2 separate regions of the Homo sapiens genome follow, and region 2 is reported to be linked to region 1. The links are microRNA targets in miRTarBase. Many come from high-throughput screens and were not tested one by one. Region 1 holds a microRNA gene; the other region holds the end of a gene's coding sequence.

Region 1 (15,733 bases):
ACAGGGCCTGACAGCCTACTCACCCACTTCGTCACTGCTCCCGGCTTTCCCTTCGTTATGTCTCCTGGGACTTCCCATGGCTGGACCCCGTCCTGGGCAATTCTGAGACCCAGAGATAAGTCAGATCCAGACCCACCTAAGCCCTGACCCTTACTCACTTTTTGAGAAACTGATAGATGAGGTCGAAAACGCTAGGAAGTGTTGGAACTTTTTGCACCCAGACAGTCTGATTCCAGATCCCCAACGCTTCCTGGGAGAGCAGACATTTGAGCTGGGACTCCCAGGATATGAAAGGACAAGAAGGTATTTCAGGGACAGCAGAACAACCTTCAAGGCACACGGAGAAGTTGGATGCCTCTGTAGGGGGGTTCTTTAGTGGGGAATGAGACCTCCATTGGAGCTGATGAGTTCCACCCAGGGGCCGGAAGTCAGTCGGCACCCACAGAGCTAGTGACGAGACACTGGAAGGCTGAGCTGACCACCTGCGCTGCCCCAGGGCAGGAGGATGAAGATGAAGATGAAGATGACTCTCCACCTTGCTCCACAGCCAAACACAGCCAAGGCACCAGGAAGTTGCGTTACATCACTTCCGCTTTCCAGGTTGGCCTGCATCTGGTTGGTAGAATTTGTCCTGTGTCCTGGATTCCAGCTGCAAAGAAACCTGGGAAATGTAGTGTGTTTTTTTTGTTGTTGTTATTGTTTTTTTTTTTTTTTTTTGACAGTCTCACTGTCTCAAAAGAGTGCAAAGTGGTATCTTATTGTGGTTTTGGTTTGTATTTACCTGGTGAGTACAACAGTGTCCATTGAGCACTCCGCAGCCTGACTGCAGAGCCACCTGCTGTGTAGCATGGACCTCCCCATGCAGTGGGAGACATGGGGTCAAGTCCTGGCTCGCTCTCTGGCTGCATTGGGTGACCCTGAGCAAGTGCTGTACTTTCTTTTTTCTTTTTTTTTTTTTTTTTTTAATGAGACAGAATTTGCTCTTGTTGCCCAGGCTGGAGTGCAATGGCGCCATCTCAGCTCACTGCAACCTCCGCCTCCCAGGTTCAAGCGATTTTCCTTTCTCACCCTCCCGAGTAGCTGGGATTACAGGCATGCGCCACCATGCCTGGCTAATTTTTTTGTATTTTTTTAGTAGAAACGAGGTTTCTCCATATTGGTCAGGCTGGTCTCGAACTCCCGACCTCAGGTGATCCGCCCGCCTCAGCCTCCCAAAGTGCTGGGATTACAGGCGTGAGCCACCGCACCCGGCCTGCTGTACCTTCTTTGTGCCTCAGTTTCCCTCTTTATTCAATGGGGCTATCTTCCAGGGTAGCCTCGAGGCTAAGATCTGAATCCATGGCCCCTTACTGTCTGCTCCTTTCCTCTCCTAAGGACTCCAGTGGGGGTGACTCATGTGCTTCTGAGGAGGAACCAACCTTTGACCCCGGCTATGAACCTGACTGGGCTGTCATCAGCACTGTGCGGCCACAGCTCTGCCACTCAGAGCCCACGAGAGGTAGGCTGAGGTGGCGGCCCTTGAGAAGCACGTGTGGGCCAGGTAGGACACATCTTGCCCTCAGTGGTCACGGTCCCAAGGGCTTTGCTGCCCACAATCAAGAAGGCCACCAGTCACCACCTTCCAGTCCCAGGAGCATGGAAGTGAATGGGAAGACAGGACTGTCCCAGCCCAGGTCAACATGGCCAGTGTCTCTGAGACTGCAGCCTTGCTCATCCTACTGGGCTCCCGGATTGGCTGTGGGTGCTCCCACACCAGGCCTGCCCCTGAGGTTCGAGGCTGGTGGGGTGACAGATGCAGCCAGTTAGGGTGATTTGCACCATCCTGGGGTCACACAGGGTGCAGGGGACATCCAGAGAAGGCACGTGACCCCTCTGGGGAATGGAGATTCCTTCCAGGAAGAGGTGATGCTGGAGCTTGGCACTGAGGGACTCTTGGGAGTTTTCTCTTCTGGCAGAGAGAGCAGCCCGTGCAAGCCAGAGGCAGGCGGCCCCCGTGTGTTTAGGGAGCCGCTGGCCTTTCATTGTAGCTCAAGTGTGGGATTTTGAGTGAAGAAAGGTTGGAGGTAAGATAGGCAGGGGCGAAGGACAGACCCGAGGGGCCTCGAGTGCCAGGTTGAGGAATAGGGCCCTTACCCTGCAGGTCGAGGGGTGCCTAGGAAGGTTCTGGAAAGGTACATGTCCACTGGGCCCCCTTCCCATCTTACTCATTTGTGCTTCCAAGGAATGTGAGGCCAGGGGCAGAGGGGTGGCTTGTGGCGGGGCCCTCAGGAGATGCCTGTGCCGAAGGAACATCCTGGGTTGTGGTTGATAAGGCTGACTCTGGCTTCCCACGCGCTTCCCCCAACACAGTGCCGTCTCCCTAGGTGCAGAGCCCAGCTGCCCCCAGGGCTCCTGGGCCTTCTCAGTGAGTCTGGGGGAGCTAAAGTCCATCCGCCGCTCCAAGCCAGGCCTCAGCTGGGCCTACCTGGTTCTGGTGACCCAGGCTGGAGGTTCCCTGCCCGCACTGCACTTCCACCGCGGGGGCACCCGCGCCCTGCTCCGCGTCCTCAGCCGCTACCTGCTGTTGGCCAGGTGAGCTCTCTCCCAGTGCTGGGCCTTAAACCGGGCCCAGTCCCACCATGGCTGCAGCGTGACCCCTCGGGGCTGTGAAAGAAACACAACTCACACTGATTTAAAGGCAGGCAAAGAGTTGACCAGCACATATAACTAAAAAGTCAAAAAGGAGTATTGATTTCAGGCAGGACCCAGGTCCCAAAATGTTAGAAACAGTTATCCTTTTTCCCTCTGAGTTCGTTATTCTCTGGGGCCCCAGTATCCGTGGCTTAACAACCCGGCTGGATAGAAGGCACCTCTTTCCCCACGTTCCAACAAGATCCCAGAGCTGCTTCTCATTGGCTCGTCCCTGAGTCAGTCACACTGGACCGGAAGGTGAAAGGCCCTCATTGGCCAGCCCCGAGTCATGTGCCCACCCCTGGGATCCAGCTGTGGGCCTCCTTTAACAGCATTCCCTGAAATGAGGGGTTGCCCAGGGGTGGTTGGGACGCTGCAGCTGGAACCGATGTCGGCCGAGCACAGACAGCCTGGGACACTGGGCCCCTACCTGTGCATCACCTGTGCGTCACCTCCCGCCTCCCAGCTCCCCGCAGGACTCCCGCCTCTACCTTGTCTTCCCCCACGACTCCTCTGCTCTCTCCAACTCCTTCCACCACCTGCAGCTCTTTGACCAGGACAGCTCCAATGTGGTGTCAGTGAGTGTCCCCAGCAGGAGGCCTGGCGGGTGTGGGCAGGGAGGGACGAGAAGGGGCGGGCCGTGACCTCCCTTTGGCCTCGTCCCCAGCGCTTCCTCCAGGATCCCTACTCCACCACCTTCAGCAGCTTCTCCCGAGTGACCAACTTCTTCCGGGGTGCCCTGCAGCCACAGCCTGAGGGAGCCGCCTCCGACCTTCCCCCGCCACCCGACGATGAGCCCGAGCCTGGATTCGAGGTCATTTCCTGTGTGAGTAGTGAGTGGACCCTCCCTGTTATTTCTGGCCGTGTCTCCCTGGGCGCATGATTTCATTTCCCTGGGCCTCAGTTTCCTCTTTGGTAAAACGGGGATGGTAATGGGACACCCTCAGGGGGTGCATGAGGAAAGCGCTCATGGCTCTGCCAGACACTGTGAGCACCTGCTCACCCTTATTGGGGGACCCCTCCTAACTGGGGGATGACTTGGCTGCTGAGCCCCGGAAGAGGCTGCTGCCTGCCCCTGAATGTTAGTCATCCGTCAAGCTAATAAGCTCTCTGAGCTTGTGGACTGAGGCTGGGTTGGGTCCCCCCACCACCCCGCCGAGCCCCAGGCTCATTTGCTCTTTGCCTGCAGGTGGAGCTGGGGCCTCGGCCAACCGTGGAGCGGGGCCCTCCAGTTACAGAGGAGGAGTGGGCACGCCACGTGGGCCCTGAAGGTCGCCTGCAGCAGGTCCCTGAGCTGAAGAACCGGATCTTCTCGGGGGTGAGTGCCAGGACAGGTGGAAGAATGGGGCAGGGCCAGAACAAGGCCCCACTGAGCTGCCTGCCCTCCTGCACCCCCAGGGTCTGAGCCCCAGCCTGCGGCGCGAGGCCTGGAAGTTCCTCCTAGGGTACCTCAGCTGGGAAGGCACAGCTGAGGAGCACAAGGCCCACATACGCAAGAAAACGTGAGTTCTCAGGAGGCCCTGCCCTGCCAGGCATGACACCTGGTACCTCCTAGGGCACCAATGGGCAAGTTCTGTGGACGCTGGTTGTGAACCTGCTGTATCTGGGCACCATCCTGCGCCTGTGGAATACGGCAATGATCAAGCCAGACCCATCCTCACCCCTGTATGGTCTGTCTCCATTGCAGTTTTCATTCCTGTGCCATACTGTTTTAATGATCACAGTTTTGCAGCATGTTTTATAACCTAGGAGGGCCCGTCTCTCCTCATTCCTGGTGTAGGTTATATACCTGCCAGGCACTGAGGATGCAGCAGTGCTGGACGATTCCCTGTCCCTGGTGCCCTGTCCAGTGGGGGGTGACAAATTTTCATCAAAAGGCCACAAGGCTATGTAGTGAGAGATGCCAGGAAGGTGAAGTGTAAGGGATAGTGGCAAGAATGACGAGGTGACCTGCTTGGGTCTGTGTGGTCAGGGAGGGGCTCTGCAGGGCTGACCTGGGAGGTGGCGCCAGGCTTGGAGGTCTCTGGGTGTTGCAGACAGTGGCGGCCTCACATCTTGTTTCCCTCTGTCACTCAGGGATGAGTATTTCCGCATGAAGCTGCAGTGGAAATCTGTGAGCCCTGAGCAGGAGCGGAGAAACTCACTTCTGCATGGATACCGCAGCCTCATCGGTCAGTGTCAGGGGTGGCACTTAGGGTGGATGGGAGCAGGGAACCACAGGAGGGCCTCAGGCATAAGTGCGAGTGGGAGATAGAGGGAGCCCCCTGCCTCCCCAAGACCAGTGAGAGGGCATCTTGGGGGAAAGCTGCATGGGCTGTTGGGGAATGGCCCTGGGGGAGCAAGGCCAGGGACAGGATGGGAAAGAAGGGGAGCCCAGCTCCCTTCAGGCCCAGTCTCAGTTCTGTCAATGCCTGGTGATCTTGGCAAGTGATTTTGCCTCCCTGGGCCTCAGTTTCCCCTACTGTGGGAGGATATAGCCAGCTGGTGAGTGGGAGGCCTGGCGCCTCACAGCAGGAGCATCAGTGATAGTTTCTAGAACCAGCTCTGCTTCTCCCCCAGAGCAAACCCCGAGGCTGGGGGCTGCCAGCAGGAGGAGCAGTGGGGGCTGGCACTGGTGGCCAGCAGGGATGGGCCCCCCTACCTTTCTCACCTTTGCACCCTGTGCCCGGTCCCCGCAGAAAGGGATGTGAGCCGCACTGACAGGACCAACAAGTTCTACGAGGGTCCCGAGAACCCGGGGCTGGGCCTGCTGAACGATATCCTCCTCACCTACTGCATGTATCACTTCGACCTCGGTGGGTGCCAGGCCTGGGGACGGGCGTGGCCGGGGCTGTCCAGGGGAGCGCTGCGGGCTTGGCTGCAGCCTGACCCCATGTCCCCCCAGGCTACGTCCAGGGCATGAGTGATCTTCTCTCCCCGATCCTCTACGTCATTCAGAACGAGGTGGATGCTTTCTGGTGTTTCTGTGGCTTCATGGAGCTCGTGGTGAGGCTTGGGTCAGGGGTGGGACACAGGCCTATCGAGCGATCAGGTGTCCTGGTACCTCACGGGGTCTGCTCTTTCCCCCCTCCTTCCGTCCCACAGCAAGGGAACTTTGAAGAGAGCCAGGAGACCATGAAGCGGCAACTCGGGCGACTGCTGCTGCTCCTGAGGGTGCTGGACCCCCTGCTCTGCGACTTCCTGGGTATGTCTCTCGGGAGGGTGGGCAGGAGACAATGGGGCCATAGACCTTGCCAGATTCTCTGGTAGCAGCCACAGTGGCATCCTGGACATTGGGTCCTGATCCAAACAAGAGAAACATCCCCACACAACCTAGAATGTAGAGGCAGAATTGCTGTTTGAAGCAAAACTTCACCAAATGCAGACACGCAGGAATGCTGACTCACCCCGTCCTCATGCTCACCTAGATCCTGTTTGGGCTTTGCCTTTGGCTTAACCTGCAGGGTATTTTTCAGAAATAAGGACCTAGGCATTCCTGCCACTTCTTATCCCCACCTGGCTGTGGCTCACCTTGAACCAGGAATCAGAGACTGGTTCTCTGGGCCCTGGGGCTGGGGGTGCTGCATCCCAGCTTTAACATTTTTATTCTTCGACCAGGCACAGTGGCTCACACCTGTAATCCCAGCACTTTGGGAGGCCAAGGCGGGCGGATCACTTGAGGTCAGGAGTTCAAGACCAGCCTGACCAACATGGAGAAACTGTCTCTACTAAAAATACAAAATTAGCTGGGCCTGGTGGCACACGCCTGTGATCCCAGCTACTCAGGAGGCTGAGGCAGGAGAATCGCTTGAACCTGGGAGGTGGAGGCTGCAGTGAGCCAAGATCACACCATGGCACTTCAGCCTGGGCAACAAGAGCGAAAGAAACTCCATCTCAAAAAAAAAAAAAAAAAAAAATATATTCTTTATTACTTGGTCAATGTAAAAACTGCAGGAAATTAAGATGAAGAAGAAAAAGTAAGGCTGGGTGTGGTGGTTCATGGTTGTAATCCCAGTGCTTTGGGAGGCCAAGGTGGGAGGATCACGTGAGCCAAGGAGTTTGAGACCAGCCTGGGCAACACTGGGAGACCAAAAAAAATTGGGAGACTACAAAAAGATTTAAAAATTAGCCTGGGCGCAATGTCATCCTGGGATCACGCCTGTAATCCCAGCACTTTGGGAGGCCAGGCAGGTGGATCACTTGAGGCCAGGAGTTCCAGACCAGGCTGGGCAACATAGCAAAACTCTGTTTCTACTAAAAATACAAAAAAATTAGCCAGCCGTGGTGGCGCCCACCTGTAATCCCAGCTGTTGGGATCGGCTGAGGCACAAGAATCACTCGAACTGGAGTGGGGGAGGTAGCAGTGAGCAGAGATTGTGCCATTGCACTCCAGCCTGGGCAACAGAGTGAGACCTTGCCTCAAAAAAAAAAAAAAAAAAAAAAAAGGTCGGGTGTGGTGGCTCACGCCTGTAATCCAGCACTTTGGGAGGCCAAGATAGGCAGATCACCTGAGGTCAGGAGTTCGAGACCAGCCTGGCCAACATGGTGAAACCCCGTCTCTACTAAAAATACAAAAATTAGCCGGGGGTGGTGGCGAGCACCTGTAATCCCAGCTACTCAGGAGGCTGAGACAGGAGAATCACTTGAGCCAAGGTTGCACCACTGCATTCCAGCCTGGGCGACAGAGCGAGACTTTGTCTCAAAAAAAAAGAAAAAAGAAAGTTAAAGTTGCTGTTTGATATCATTGTTTTTCTTGAGTGCAGATGGTGATGATAATAAGTTAAACTTATTCATGAACATTTCCTCGATGCTTTAGGACCCCCGGGGGAGGGAGCTGAGATACTCTGTCCTCACCTTACTGATGAGGAAACTAAGCCATAGAAAAGCATCACCTCCTAGGGCACAAGGACAGAGGCTGCCTCTGGGTCATTCAAAGTCTTCTGAAACATCACTTTTCTTGACTGCGCGGCATTGTGTCCACCTGCAAGATGTGGTAGATTTGATGTAACTTGACCTGCTGGAGATTCGGGTCCTTTGCAGTTTTTCATCACGGTGCATAGTCTGGGTAATTTCTTCTTTAGGTTCACTTCCAAGAAGTGGAATTTTGTTCAGGACAGTGCTTGTTTTCACACAGCTTTGGAGAGTTTGTCCTCCGTTGTTACTTTCCTCAAAGGTTAGAATGCTCAGACTCTCACTTTCATTTGAGTTAACTTGGGGGGAAAAAAAGGTTCAACACCAGCTTAATTTTTTTTTTCTTTTTGAGATGGAGTCTCGCTCTGTTACCCAGGCTGGAGTGCAGTGGTGTGATCTCGGCTCACTACAACCTCCACCTCCCGGGTTCAAGCGATTCTCCTGCCTCAGCCTCCCAAGGAGCTGGAATTACAGGGGTGTGGCACCATCCCAGCTAATTTTTGTATTTTTAGTAGAGATGGGGTTTCACCACGTTGGCCAGGCTGTATTTTTAGTAGAGATGGGGTTTTACCATGTTGGCCTGGCTGGTCTCGAACTCCTGACCTCAGGTGATCCACCCGCCTCACCCTCCCAAAGTGCTGGGGTTACAGGCGTGCGCCATCGCACCCGGCCTTCAGCTTAAATTTTTGCTACAGCGTATCTAGGAGTGTCAGTTCCCTTAGCGCTCACCAGCAGCGGGCAGAGGTCTGTTTCGTCGGGCGTGCTGGGCGTCCTGCCTCCCTTCCATGTCCATGGCAGATGTGGAAGTATAATAGCACACTTCCTCTGGAGAGTGGGAGGAAGGAGGGGCAGGGCCCGCGTTCAGGGCTGCTCCTGCCTCACCTCCGAGGTTCCCCAGCCAGGCATAAGTCACTTGCCTAGACTTGGGGAAGGTCTTCCAGTCAGGATGACTTCTCAAACTCTCAGTCCCAGCGCTGGGCAAGGCTGAGTGGGCTCCATGTCATCCCCCAGATTCCCAGGACTCCGGCTCTCTCTGCTTCTGTTTCCGGTGGCTGCTCATCTGGTTCAAGAGGGAATTCCCCTTCCCGGATGTCCTTCGGCTGTGGGAGGTGGGCCAGCCAGTTTGGGCGAGAGGCCTGAAGGGGTGGGCTCACCTGCCCTGGGAGGTTGGGCGGAGAGGGACAGACCCTGGTGGGACCTCAGGCCCAGGCTGGGCTATGACCTCCCTCCCTCCCTCTGTCCCGCACCCTCAGGTGCTGTGGACAGGGCTCCCTGGCCCCAATCTGCACCTGCTGGTGGCCTGCGCCATCCTGGACATGGAGAGGGACACCCTCATGCTGTCCGGCTTCGGCTCCAATGAGATCCTCAAGGTGAGGCTCCGGCCCCGCCCCCGCCCTGTCCCCCCTGAGCTGGGCGCTGCCCAGGGCCGCAGTACCTCCGGGGAGCAGGTGTTTAGTGTGGGATTATTGAAAGCCTGGTTAGTTGGGAGCGCAGTGGGGGTGGGGCCGCGTAGGTTTCCCTTCTGCCCCATGCCATGCCTGCTCCCAGCAAGGTCCTCCGGGCAGGTGGGTGGGGACCTTCCCTCCCCGAGTACGTGCTCAGAATGCTCCCGGAGGCCTGAGAAGCATGTCTCGCCCAGCGCACTTCTGAGCCCCCAGAGGGCCAGCCCGGTGTGTCTTCATTGTTTCCCAGCACGAAGCACAGAGTGGGCGCTCGGGCGGAGGTGGTTGAGTGCCGACTGGCGCCTGACCCACCCCCTCCCGCAGCACATCAACGAGCTGACTATGAAGCTGAGCGTGGAGGACGTGCTGACCCGCGCCGAGGCCCTGCACCGCCAGCTAACCGCCTGCCCCGTGAGTCCCCGTCCGCCCCGCAGCGCCCCGCCCGAACCCCGACCGACCCCCGCCCCCTTCTCACCTTCACCTTCCGCTTTTCGCTTCTCTCATCCCGTGCCTCCAGGAGCTGCCCCACAACGTGCAGGAGATCCTGGGGCTGGCCCCGCCCGCAGAGCCCCACAGCCCCTCGCCCACCGCCTCCCCGCTGCCTCTGTCGCCCACCCGGGCCCCGCCCACCCCGCCGCCCTCCACGGACACAGCCCCGCAGCCCGACAGCAGCCTGGAGATCCTGCCCGAGGAGGAGGACGAGGGCGCCGACTCCTAACCCCGCCAGGCAGCCTCGTTCTGCACAGGCACTTTAGCCCGAGCCAGGCACACCTGCGAGGGGGCAGGTGTGCTCCGCCGCCCTGCTGATAAGCTGGCTTCATTAAACTGACACTTCTCATGTGCAGTTGGCTTCTTGTTGGTGGGGGGAAGGCTGCCAAGTGGGCTCTGACCTGGTTGAGGAGGGGATGGTGGCTGGGCAGAGCCTAGGGTGAATGATTGGGGTTTGTGGAGGCAGGGCTTCCTGAGTTGCCTGATTTGTTTTTTTGTTTGTTTGTTTTATGAGATGGAGTCTTGCTCTGTCGCCCAGGCTGGAGTGCAGTGGCAGATCTCGGCTAACTGCAGCCTCCGCCTCCCGGGTTCAAGCAATTACCCTGCCTCAGCCTCCTGAGTAGCTGGGACTACAGGCGTGTGCCACCACACCCGGCTGATTTTTGTAATTTTGGTAGAGATGGGGTTCCACCATGTTGCCCAGGCTGGTCTTGAACTCCCGACCTCAGGTGATCTGCCTGCCTTGGCCTCCCAAAGTGCTGGTATTACAGGCGTGAGCCACCGCGCCCGGCCTGATTTGGGGTTTTTGGAAGAGGATAGGGTGCTCTGGGCTGTGGCGGCGACCTGGTAGCTGTGTGGGAACACTTCCCGGACATAACCAAGGTGGAAGGGCCTGCAGAGATGCACTCTGGGGAGCCTGCCCTCCCAGCTGCTGCTTGTGAGAAAAATCACCTCCTGTTCAGCCACTGTCAGCTGGGCTTTCTGTTACTTGCATTAGGGCCCATCTGGACTTCAGCCTCGTGACAGAGGTGGTCGCTGTGATTGCCATTTCCCGGTGGTGCAGGGCGTCCTTCCGGTTCCCTCTGTGCGCACCACCCCCCACCCTCCTCTGGAGCCCCACTGTCCAGGAAGAAGTGAGGGGCAGATTTTTGGGGGGGCTCCAGGATGGGCGTGGCGCCTGCTAACTGCAGGGCTAGTGGTTCCGATGCAGGCAAACTGGGGAAGTAACTGAGCCACGGGGGAGGCTGGACCACACGGCTTTTTCCGAAAATACTTTAATGCGAGGTCCTCGTGTGGGTCGTGTTTTGGAGAGATAACTGGCCTTGGACTGGAGGGTGGCTGCCTTCTTCCTTTGCCAGGTCATGCGAGGGGCTGCTGGCCACCCCATGCACATGCCCCTGCCCCTCCATGTCAGATGCGTGCCCCTCGGGGCTGGCCGTGTCCGATGCAGGCCCCTTCCGGCTGTTGATCTTGATGGCGGCGCGCAGCGCCGACTTGACCGCCGTCTCCACCCAGCCGTGCGGGTAGGCGGTGTGCTCGCCGGCAAAGTAGATGCGGCCATAAGGGACCGTCCAGTCATCCTTTTCGGTTTGCCAGAGCGCCGGCGGCTGTACCACAAAGCCACCCTGGCTGTGCTGGTCCTCCGCCCAACGCTTGACGACGCCGGTGCCGTCCCAGAGCTGGCGCACGACAGGCCCGTGCAATGCCGCCACGTCGTCGAGCGCCAAGCGCAACGCCTCTTCCCGGCTCAAGCCGGCGAACGCTGCCGCCGCGTCCGACCACGTGTACGAGGCCAGCAGCAGCGCGCCCTCGCGCGGCGGCGGGTAGAAAATCATGCGCGACGGGCGATCGGTGTTTGAGTGGCCGCCTTCAATGTGCTCCTCGCGCCAGAAGGGCCTGCGGAAGCTTAGGAACACCTTGGTGGCCGGCACGTAGTGCAGCCTCCGCAGCGCCTCCTGCATGTGGCGGGGCAGCGGCGGCGAGAAGGTGATGCGCTTCACCGCCGGTCCGCTCGCCGTCAGCAGCACCACGTCGGCCTTCAGCACCTTCAGATTCCGCGCCGGGGGAGAGGTCTCGATCTGCACGTGCACATCGTGCGGTCCCTGGGTCATCGCCACCACGGGCGCGTTCAACAGCACAAGCCCGGACAGCGAGCTCAGCAGCGCGCGCGGCAGCAGGTCCCAGCCACCCACGATGCGGCTGTACCTGCAGGCGGGGCGGGGCGGGGTGGGGGCGTGACCTGGGCTCTGCGGCCCTGCCCCTCTGCCTTGCCCCACCCACCCCGGCAGCTGGCCCTTATGGGCACCGGCCCGCTCCCCCGTCATCCACCTCTCCCGACCCCGCCCGTCCCTGACATCCCAAAGGCCGCAGGAGTAGTGGATTGTGTCACCAGGGACCCCACCACTTCTCCCCTAGGCCGTGTCCTTTATCTGGGAACCCTTAGCCCCGCGACCATCAATTAGGCCACGCCCTTCACAACAGCCCCGCCCCCAGACCCAGAGGCTCCTCCCACTCCCTGCTACTTTCCCTGATTGCCCCCCGCCCCCCCCCCCTGCCCGCCAGCCCCGCCCCTTACTGGAGTCTGTCGCTGAGGCAGCTGTGGGCCCGGAGGGCCTCGGCGAAGCTGAGATAGAAGAAGCCATCCTCGGACATCACGTCTCCCAGAAGCTGCACGGCCGGCCGGCTCAGGTTCCCCTCCCCGAGAAGATATTCCTGCAGGTTGGGCACAGGCCGAGGTTAGGGCCCAGGCAGGCTGCACCCCTGAGAGAGCCCCTCCGCAGCTGGGCCTCCTGGTCCCATGACATGTCCTTGGACCGTAGGATCCTGTCCCCACTCTCTGACAGATGAGGGAAACGGAGGTCCAGACAGGGGGCGTGTCCAGCCCCCGGGTCAGGCAGGAAGGCGGTGGCAGGACTAGGGTGCCAGGTACCCGCCTTCTGACTCTCTGGGGAAGGCCTCATGGTCACTCTCTTTGCCCTGCATCTCAGCAGAACCAAGATCCCCACTTACCAAGAGCGTGTGCCTTTCAAACTTCTTCATCGCCTTTCTGCAGCCCAGTGCCTTGAGGTCTTTGAGGGCCTGTTGTGGAAGAAGCAGACATGGTGCTGAGCTGCCCGGGCAGCCAGGGTGGAGGCCGGGCCTGGAGCCCACACTCGGCTTCTCCTCGTGGTTCTGCCCACGGCTGGCCATTCACCACTCTCAAGCCCCTGGGCTTTTGCCCACACCATGCCCTCCGCCTTGCCCTCCACGGCAACTCAGATGCCACTGCTCCTCCGATATTACCGAACTGTTAACGCCGCCCATCCCCCCTCATTCGGCTGGCCCGGCTGGTCACAGCTCATCCCGGTTGCGTGTTATTTTGCCTATTTTTCAGCCAGCCAGCCAGACTGTGAGCTCCATGGAGGCAGGGATGTGGGCAGCTGGAGAGGAGACTGGGAGAGGGTCCCAGGCGTGCTGTGTCCTCCCGGGGGCTCAGTGATTATTTGTTGCCTGAATCACTGTGGCCACGGACAGAAGCTGGTCCCCTGTGCCACTGGTCAGTGCTGACAGGGCATGATGGCTGAGAAGTTTATCTACCGTCCGTCCCCTGCCCACAGCCCTCCTGTAGCTCCCCAGTGCCTGGAGCCACAGAATTCTTGCCCCTCAGCCTCATGTTCAAGGCCCCTGCTAGCCCCTCAATGTCTTTTTTTTTTTTTTTTTTTTTTGAGATGGAGTGTCGCTCTGTTGCCCAGGCTGGAGTGCAGTGGCGCCATCTCAGCTCACTGAAACCTCTGCCTCCCAGGTTCAAGTGATTCTCCCACCTCACCCTCCCAAGTAGCTGGGATTACAGGCGCCTGCCACCACACCTGGCTCATTTTTGCATTTTTAGTAGAGACAGGGTTTCATCATGTTGGTCAGGCTGGTCTCGAACTCCTGACCTCAAGTGATCTGCCTGCCTCGGCCTCCCAAAGTGCTGGGATTACAGGCGTGAGCCACTGCGTGCCAGGTACCCGCCTTCTGACTCTCTGGGGAAGGCCTCATGGTCACTCTCTTTGCCCTGAATCTCAGCAGAACCAAGATCCCCACTTACCTCAGTCCATGTCTTTTATGGCAGCTCTGGTTCTGTGAACAGTGTACAGTGCCCAGACCACCTGCCCTCAGGGCTCTCCCACCTACACATCTGGCACCTATTGTTTCCCTGCCTGTCTTTGCGTGGCACATGAGTGCGTGTTCTTCAGCACTTTGTTCGAATCTCACCCCCTCCCAGAAGCCTTGCTGCCCCCATCTAATTTCAGCCTTCTTCTTGGTCCACCTGGCTTCCCCCTTCTGGCCAGGACCTCAGAGGGAAGGCAGTGCCCCTTCACTCACTCATGCATCTCGCATCTCTCAGACTCCCAAACCAGTCAGTGTCAAGGCATAGAAATGACCTGGACATGGCCCCCATCCTGGTCTAGAAGGGGAGATGGGCAAGTGGGCTCTGACCTGGGTGGGGAGGGGATGTTGGGTGTGGCCAGTTCCTCCCTAAAGGTATCAGGGAAGGCTTCCTGGAGGAGGGGACATTGGAGCTAGTTCTTGAGGGCTGAGCAGGAGTTCCTGTGTGGGGAAGGGAAAGGCATTCTGGAAAGGGAGGGTGATACACAGGTATAGTGGGTGTGAGGAACACAGAGCTGGGGGCATGTGGACCACCATGAGGACAAAAATTTCTTAGAGGAGAAAAGAGCATGAGGCTGGAGGGGTGCAGAAGGGAAGGCCAGTCAGGGCTCAAAGCTGAGCCTGAAAAGATCAGACTTTGTCCTGGAGGCAGCGGGGAGCCACTGGGGGCTGTGAGCAGCATCACTCTGGGTGTGTGGGAAGACGTTTCTGGTACCAGGCTGGGGAGACTAGAGCCTGGGCAGCTTGAGAGGAGGCTGGGGGAGGGTCCAGGGCAGAGGAGGAGGCCTGAGCTGGGGCAGGCAGAGGGGAGCAGGGCACAAGCGTCAGGCGGCAGGGGTGGGCACTGATGGTGGGGGAGGTGGGCGAGGAGGAGGTCAGGAGGAGGATGGCTCCTAGGGGTCTGCCCGTGACTGCGGGATGGTGGGGCCATCGTGAGATGGGGGCACCGGGAGGAGGAACAGGTTTAGGGGAAGCTTCTGAGCCCAGTGTCCTGGGGAGGGACACAGATCAGGGTCTCGGGAGGCAGATGTCTCCATCAGCCCATGGATCTATGTTTAAGCCAGAGGTGGAGACTGGGGAGGTTATCCAGGACAGTGTGTGGGTGAAAGGGGAAGAGGCCAAAAGCTGATGCAGCTTTGGGGTCAGCAGTGTTTACGGGGAAGCTAAAGAAGGGAGTTGGGGCCGGGGGCAGTGGCTCACGCCTGTAATCCCAGCACTTTGGGAGGCTGAGGCAGGTGGATCACGAGGTCAGGAGTTCAAGATCAGCCTGGCCAAGATGGTGAAACCCCGTCTCTATTAAAAATACAAAAATTAGCTGGGCGTGGTGGCGGGCGCCTGTAATCCCAGCTACTCGGGAGGCTGAGGCAGAGAATTGCTTGAACCTGGGAGGCGGAGGTTGCAGTGAGCTGAAATGGCGCCATTGCACTCCAGCCTGGGTGACAGAGTAAGACTCCATCTCAAAAAAAAAAAAAAAAAAAAAAAAAAGAAGGGAGTTGAGAGATGACCCATATGTGTAGAAGCCCCTGGGCTGGCCCATTCTCATTCTCGGATTTCAGTGAGTAGGTCAGTGGTTAGACCTCATGGCACACATCCCCTTGGTAGAATTTCCATCTCCACCAACAGGCGCCCCACCCCATGGAGGGGACTGAAGGGATGCCAGAGAGAAGAAAAGCCGGGCCGGGGCGAGCTTAGGAGGAGGACAGAGAAGTCAGGGCGGGAGGAGGGTGCAGGCGGTACCCACCTGGTTGAGAGCCATCTGGTAGATGTCTTCGGGCGAGTGGCCCTTTTCCTGGGGACGCAAGGCGTAGCCCAGCTTCTCGGGCACCTTCTCCACCACATAGTTGCGCAGCTTCACTTCGTGCACCTCCGTCCACGTGTTCTTGTCGTACTGGGTGAACTTGGTCAGGTTGAGCCCCAGGCCCTGGCAGAGCTTGTGGAGGATCCTGATCAGGGGAGTGGGTGAGTGAGGGCCGGGCTCCAGTGGGGGTGGCCTGGTCCCTAGTGGGACTTGGAGAAGAGGGGTGGGAGGGGAGAGTAGCTGGGGACCAGCATGAGGCTGGGGGTGGGGCTAGATTTGGGGTAATCAATGCTGGGGGATGGGAATGAAATGG
Region 2 (7,000 bases), not on the chromosome of region 1:
AGGGTAGGCCACGTGGGAAAGGCTTGTGTGAGCGCTGTGATCGTTCATTCCACAGAGGCTGGCTGTGGCTGCCTTGTCCTATGGTGGACCCCTGGGGCTGGGTCCAGAGGCATGGACAATTGTGGGGCCTGTGCCCACTGCTTCACAGGCCTTTTCCCACCCCCATGCTCCCTGGAGCTGCCCACGGCCTTTGGGACAAGCAAAGCAAGGGCACCATCTGCTTCTGCCCAGAGACAGGAAGCAGCTCATCTGAGGTCACCTGGAGGGCTGGTGACAGGGTCTTGAGGGCAGGGCCAGAGTCACCCCCTGCACTCAACAGAAACTCCTGCATTGCCTCCAACAACCCCATTCAGCCCATTTCCAACCACGTCCCAGGCCTGTGTCGGAATAGAGGAGGCTGCGGGGGTGAGCTGGGAGGAAGCTGCCTTGCTACACCCACAAAGGGCAGGATTATTCCCATATTACAGACAGGGGAACTGAGGCATCGAGTGACTAAACCAACTGGTCTAGGCCCACTCCCTGGTGAATGGCAGAGCCAGGAGGCGAACCCGGGCCTGCCGGCTCCTGTGTGCCTGAGCAGGGTCCTGTGCTGGGGCGGGGTTGGCCCTTCTTGCTCAGCCTCACTCTCTGCTCTCTCTCTCCCAGGGCCAGCAGTTTCATCATCACAGGGTCCCTGCCTCAGGGACTAGGGATAAAGACGGCTTCCCAGGACCCCCTAGGTACCGCTCTGCTGCTGACAGCGTCCAGAGCTCTACCAGAAACGCTGGCCCAGCCATGGCTGGCCCCCACCACTGGCAGGCCAAGGGAGGTCAGGTACCCCGCCTGCTTCCGGATCCCGGCAGCCCAAGACTGGCCCAAAATGCCCGCCCCATGACCGATGGCAGGGCCACCGAGGAGCATCCGAGTCCCTTCGGAATCCCATACTCCAAACTGTCTCAGTCGAAGCACCTAAAGGCCAGGACGGGCGGTAGCCAGTGGGCCTCATCGGATTCTAAACGGAGGGCTCAAGCCCCCCGGGACCGCAAAGACCCCTAGCAGCATGTCCCAGCCTGGAGCCACACCTTCTGAGGCCCCAGCCCAGACTCATGACGCGGAGGGCAGACAGGCCGCCTGGGCCTACCAGAGCCCACTGGGACGGCAGGAAGGTGGGATGGGCGGGAGACGTTGGCACTCACCTGGTCGGTGCACCAGTACCAGGTGGCCATGATGGTCAGGCCAAAGGTCATCCCGGTCCACGGCAGGTCCCCTGTGTGGGGGTCTCGAAACATGTGCATGGCGTCTGTACGTGGCAGGTGGCAGGTGGTGTTGGCAATGGTCCTGGAGGGAATGGCCTGGGCGTAGGCTGCCTCCAGCTGCCCGTAACCACCGATCTGGTCAAAAGCTGGAGGGGTCAGGGTGGAACAGGGACAGTTTGGTGGTTGCGGGGCCCTGACTCCCTGGGCTCCCCCCTGCCTTCATCTCACAAGAAACTTCCTGATGCATCAAACTTGAGTTTTTTCCACCTCATCTTTCCCAGTGTTTGGAAAGGTGTGAGGGTAGAGGGTTGTTTTTTTTTTTAAGGTGTATTTGAATGACTATTTTATTCGTATTTAAAATAATACTATTAAGTAAGCATTTTGCACATGGGCACCCCAGTGTCCCGCTGGCCCAGCAGGAGTCACTGTTGGCCTCTGGACACTCATCGGCCTTGGGCAAGTGGTTCTCAGCCAGGTTTCCGATTGTCGATTCAAGGAAGCAAAAGTAATTTTTCTTGACATTTGAGGACCTTCCTGAGGCTTCTAAAGTGTTCATCCTGATCACCTGAAGGGTGTGATTTTAGCAGAGCTGAGAGTGGCTGGTGGTGATGTGGCCCCACCCCCTGAGGCACAGAGAAGAGGGAGACAGGTCCAGAGAGGGATGGGGCCTCCACCAAGACCATATAGACCATCTGGCGGGCTCAAGCCGGGGCTTTTTCCTCTCCAGTCCAAAACACCTCACTGTTCCTGTCTACCTCGGGGTCAGGGCCCGGCATGGCCAAGCCCTGGCCCATCTGTGTCTGTGTCACTCCCCTCCCTTCCAGACTGGGCCTGGCTGCTGGGATCCCTCTCATGCGGTGGGTCCCAGGGACACTAGAGCCCCTGGTCTGAGAGGGAGAAGCCTGGATGTAGGAAAACCCGTTTCCACCCCAGGCCCTACTCCCTAGCCTTTTCCAAGTGGGACATGGAAGAGGCAGCCTGCTGCCTGGATGCTGGTCTCCCCAGCATCACTGTTCCCATGGAGCTCAGGTCAGGCTCTGTATTCAGACCGAGGGTTTGTGTGAGGCTCAGAGCAAATGAACAAGTGCCATTCAAGGGTTAGAAACTGCTCAGCCACAGGGTCCCAGTGTCTGAGTCTGGAAGAGTCTTTAGAGATTTGTTCACTCTCTGAGGGATCCTCCTGGCTCTGCTTACATACTTCCAGGGACGGTGAGCTCACGCTCTCTCCGGGCAGCCCTGTGAGTTTCCTATCTGTTCCAGACTAGTATCGCCAATCTCTCCCAGCTCTCTTCTTTCCTCCCTGGCCTTTGTCCTGCAGGAGGTAGCATCACCTCTTGGCATTTTGTACATGCTTTTAAACAATTGGAGGAGCTGCCCAGGCAGTTTTATGGCCTCCTGGTTGTGTGCCTTCACACCCGCCTACAGCCCCACCTCACCATCAAGCGCTGAGCCAATGCGGGTGTGGCTGGCCCTGAGTTCCTGAGTCAGCTCCTTGCCAGGGCCAGAGCTGGTAACAGCGGGGCAGCAGGGTGGGTAGCCTCTACCAGCCAGGGCAGTCCCTGAGGGGCCAGCAGGGGGGCTGACTGCCTAGTGGCTCAACCTCCTGAACCCACCCACTCCCAGCGATGCTACCCAGAACCCCAACGGCATGAATCCTGCACAGTGCCGGGCAGTGCCAGACTCCAAAGGGCTCGCTGTGGGGACAGCCCCGCCATGGCCACAGACTCTGTCCTCACCTTTGATTGTCAGGATGACAGCCCCCACCACCATGATGAGCGTCTGCAGGGCGTCCGTGTAGATTACAGCAGCCAGGCCCCCTGCCAGTGGAAGCAAGGTTGCTGGAGGGGGCCCTGGCCCCAGGGAGGAGGGACACGGGGAGGAACTTCTGGGGCTCCTGCTGGGGCCACTTCCTGGGCTGCTCCCTCGGGCCTGTAGGGGGAGGTGGCCTTCTGACCCCTTTACACGTCCCCTGGGTGGACCTCCCTGCTGCAGGCACCATACCTGCGATGGTGTACAGGGCTGTGATGCCGAGCGTGAGGATGGTGGAGAGGTAGAAGTTCCAGCCCAGGCAGATGTGCACAAACAGAGCCCCCGCGTACAGGTCCAGCTGCGGAGGGAGAGAGCCTTGTGTGGGACTGTTATTCCCAGGGCTCCAGCAAGCCACTCCCTGGGTGACCTCGGGCAAGGCCCTCTCTGGGCCTCGGTGGCCTGTGGATAAGGAGGGGAGACCCCCACTCGCCTGCCTGCCTGCATCACGGGGCCATTGTGAGGTTGGGGGAAGACCTGGCCGTGGAGCTACAAGCTTGTGCGGATGTCAGGGGACATTACTGTTGCTAATAAAGTCCAAAGTGGCCAATGCCTTTCCCAAAAGCAGTGTTGTTATTGAATCTGGCCCCTTCCCGAGGGGATAAAAGGCAGAGCCCTGTCCCCTCGGTTCCCAGGGGCACCTTGATGAGTTTGTGAGGAGTCTGTGAAGACCAGTAGGCCTCAGGAAAAGTGTGTGCTGGGCGGACCAGTAGGCCTCAGGAAAAGTGTGTGCTGGGCGGACCAGGAAACAGAGGGGCAGCCTTGCTTCCTGCCCCCACCCCCCAGTGGGTTTGGAACTGAAGCCAATAGTGGCTCAGAGGCTGGGTCTCAGGCTGAAGCTGGTCTCCACACTGACTGGACACAGCCCCTGCCCTCCCAGAACCTGTGGCTGCTCCTCCTAAAGGCAGGAGCGCTAGCCTGGAGGCCAACCTCTGCCTGGCATGGGCCTCAAAGACCAGAATCCCACCCTCCACCTGGCAGTAGGGGCCCAGTGAGAGGAAGGGCAGGACCCTGTTCTCTGGGACATGGGCTAGTAACAGGCTTCACCTTGCCCCACCCCTGAGTTCCTAAACCTACCATTCTGCTTTGACTCAGGAGATGCGAGATGACCCAACACACAGCCTCAGGGGCCAGGAGCTTCCTGAGAAGGCTGGGGCCCTGTGCTTCCTAGTGTGGGGACACATCTGCACGAGGCCCAGGAAGTGCAGGCCCCAGGCCCCTTTGAGCTCCCCCAGGCAGGGATCCCTGCCTCCTGGGGTCTGACACAGGGCCCAGGCAGGATGGGATCTGGCTCCAAAGCCTGTGCTTCCTGTACCTCTCCCTCCAGGCGCCTCTCTCAACCTGTCTTAGAGAGACCAGCCAGTTTGGAAACTAGCCAGGGGCTTTCAGGAGAACCCCGGCTCTGGTCCTTATCTTTGGCTGTGTGTGTGTGTGTATAGGAAGGGCAGGTAGTTCAGGGGAAGGTGTGGTGGGGGGTGGGGGCGGGATCTGCCTCCAGCCCAAGTAGAGAAGCGCAGAGGTGCTGAATATCAGAGCAGGATGGACTCTTCAAGTCCTGCCCCATCAGACTAGAGGATAAACTGAGGCCCCAGGAAGGGAAAGGACTTCCCCAAAGTCAGCCCCTGGTAGGTATCAGAGATTGGAGTTACCAGGAGAGGGAAGGCCGAGAGGGAGCAGGAGGCTTCTAGAAGGCCCACCACAGGCAGCCTGCAAGCTTCTGTCCTACAGTCACTGCTCCAGACTCCTGCTGGACCCTGGCTGTCTCTGGACAGAACCTGGGTCTGTGTGCCCGGTCTTTGGCTCTGGCCACGCCAGACACATGGCCCTTCATCCCATGCCCAGCACTTAGCTGCCTCTGAGTCTTTGCTCACCGGCTCACCAGATTCCCTCTGCCCTGGAACATCCCAGCCTCTGCTTCTCATGTTTCAAAACACAGCCGTGCCAGCCCCTCTGCTCCTCGAGTACATTGTTCATTCGCCCTCCCTCCTGCCTCCCTCCTTCCTGCCCTTCCTTCCACGGTGGCAGGCCCCAAAGACTGAATAGAAGTCCCGCAGGTGCAGGAACGGCAGGAGCAAGGGTGTGGGGTGGGCCTTTCACTGCTGTCTCCCCTATAGACTGGACACTACATGGCATCCAGTGAACGTTTGCTGCTGTTGCTAGAGGCCCAGTAGGTGTGCGGTTGCCTGCAACTCCCGAGCAGCCCCCGGGTGAGGAATTCAGACATCACTTAGCCCTATCCGACCCTTCCTGCAGCCCGAGCACTCCTCTGTGGGCCGGGGCAGCTTCAGCCTGACAGATGCCAAGAGCCACACAGCCCTGGCTCTGTGCCCCTGGTCTGCCATGTCCCAGCCACATGGCTTTGAGCAGGCCACTTCATCCCCTGAACCTCAGTGCCCCTGATCTGTGCCATGGGGAAGTGGGTGTGGAGCACACAAAGCCAGCCACCCAGCCCCTCCACCCTGCCGGCACCCTGCAGCCCCTCTACCCCCTCACCCTGGCACGGGATGCTCCGTGGGACTGTCTGAGATAGCCAGCTCTCCTCTGTGCCTCCCTCCCCAGTGACCCAGGAGCAACCGCAGAGTGTTGTTTTTTTTTTTTTTTTTGAGACGGAGTCTTGCTCTGTCACCCAGGCTGGAGTGCAGTGGTGCGATCTCGGCTCACTGCAACTTCCACCTCCCGGGTTCAAGTGATTCTCCTGCCTCAGCCTCCTGAGTAGCTGGGATTACAGGTGTGTGCCATCAAGCCCGGCTAATTTTGTACATGGTTTCACCATGTTGGCCAGGCTGGTCTCAAACTCCTGACCTCAGGTGATCCACCCACCTCGGCCTCCCAAAGTGTTGGGATTACAGGCGTGAGCCACCGCACCCGGCCCAGAGTCTATTCCAACTCCTAGAAGGCACAGATGGGGAGGTCAAGGCCCAAATTGCAGAGGAACTTGCCCATGGAGGCAAAACTCTGGGAACAAAATCAACAAGACTGCACCAGGGAACAGCATCCCCGAGGAAGGGCCACTCCCAGGGCACAGGCTGAACCAGGACCTCACTCCAGGCTGCCACCCATGGGGCCGGAGCAACTGGTCCACCCCCAGCTCAGCAGCCTGATCCAGGCTGCTGTCCAGAGGTGCCTGCCTGCTCCTGTGATGTGGCCCCACATTCACCCTGCACAAACTGTCCTTTCCACTACCCTGCTCCTTCCTCCCCATGCAGGACCCCCACGATTCCTCCCTTCATCTTGTACCCAGAAACCCTGCCAGTGCTTCACGGCCCTGGTTGTCCTCCAGGACTCCCTGCTGACTTGCCACTTTTGACAGGTGACAAATGTGCGTGTGTGCCACACGGCGCCCTGATGTCTTTCAGGTCTCCCCCAGTGCTGCTCATAGCATCCTACCAGGTGGGTGTGGTAATCCACTCCACTCCACAGTGGGGGGCACCTGGGCATGGAGAAGTGAAATGACTTTGTCAAAGTCCCACCGTCCTAAGAGGTGGGCCCCAAGGACGTGCCCTTCCTGCTGGCTGACCCTGGGGCCTGTGAGGTCCTGGGGAGGAAACTCATGGCAGGGGACCTCCCAGAGAGCACACACTGTTGGCAGCAAGCCACTCCTCTCCTGGCACCATGTAGCCACCACTGGGGGCTTGCAAGGGCGGGAGCCCAGTACACAGGGAGGGAGCAAGGCTGAGAGAGGACGTGTGGGCCCTGTGGTGCAGCGTGGGACTGATCTGGCGGGCTCTGCACAGCTTAGACCCCCAAGCTCCCCACGTATATGAAGGAGCCTCACTCCATCTCCCAGCCGATGGAAACCATTCACTCCAGGGCGTGTCTGAGGCTGAAGGAGGCTGGGAACCGGCCCTGGTACTCTGGCTGCCCGGCCTGGGCCCTTGCCCTGCCCGCTCTCAGCCACCTTCCCACATGGAACTTATATCTCCCATCCTTCGTGGGACAGCAGAGAAGCTGGGTGGGCT

The links. Region 1 holds the annotated microRNA hsa-miR-4750-3p (CCUGACCCACCCCCUCCCGCAG, at 9,305-9,326, shown strand). A microRNA usually pairs through its seed, bases 2 to 8, with sites in the 3' UTR of a target mRNA and lowers its output. Matches are read on the target gene's strand: a 7mer-m8 pairs with bases 2 to 8, a 7mer-A1 pairs with bases 2 to 7 and ends in A, and an 8mer does both.
Region 2: miRTarBase lists FAM83G as a target of hsa-miR-4750-3p. Seed matches in the 3' UTR shown: 7mer-m8 at 1,388-1,394 and 7mer-m8 at 1,995-2,001.

Annotation. Positions count from the first base shown.
Region 1 is chr19:49,878,905-49,894,637 of GRCh38, forward strand. It overlaps MIR4750 (microRNA 4750), which reads left to right and starts at 9,271; the gene lies at 9,271-9,326. It overlaps TBC1D17 (TBC1 domain family member 17), which reads left to right. Exons shown (of 17, transcript NM_024682.3): 4 at 1,375-1,498; 5 at 2,364-2,571; 6 at 3,137-3,248; 7 at 3,338-3,496; 8 at 3,860-3,988; 9 at 4,069-4,172; 10 at 4,747-4,841; 11 at 5,349-5,465; 12 at 5,555-5,655; 13 at 5,755-5,854; 14 at 8,572-8,669; 15 at 8,814-8,930; 16 at 9,327-9,413; 17 at 9,520-9,846. The coding sequence ends at 9,720. IL4I1 (interleukin 4 induced 1) reads right to left here. Exons shown (of 8, transcript NM_152899.2): 5 at 15,364-15,565; 6 at 12,501-12,569; 7 at 12,067-12,203; 8 at 10,750-11,696. The coding sequence ends at 10,766. LOC124904743 (a long non-coding RNA gene) reads right to left here and starts at 8,572. Exons shown (of 4, transcript XR_007067293.1): 1 at 8,290-8,572; 2 at 7,542-7,859; 3 at 4,665-5,982; 4 at 3,186-3,270. RefSeq lists enhancers at 11,175-11,842, 11,843-12,511, 12,512-13,178 and silencers at 11,218-11,387, 11,618-11,807.
Region 2 is chr17:18,965,394-18,972,393 of GRCh38, reverse strand. FAM83G (family with sequence similarity 83 member G) reads left to right here. Exons shown (of 6, transcript NM_001039999.3): 6 at 646-3,605. The coding sequence ends at 1,035. SLC5A10 (solute carrier family 5 member 10) reads right to left here. Exons shown (of 15, transcript NM_001042450.4): 6 at 3,237-3,342; 7 at 2,972-3,052; 8 at 1,176-1,381. Among named protein-coding and RNA genes, the nearest start is that of SLC5A10, 17 kb to the right of the region's middle. RefSeq lists enhancers at 689-1,630, 3,517-4,460.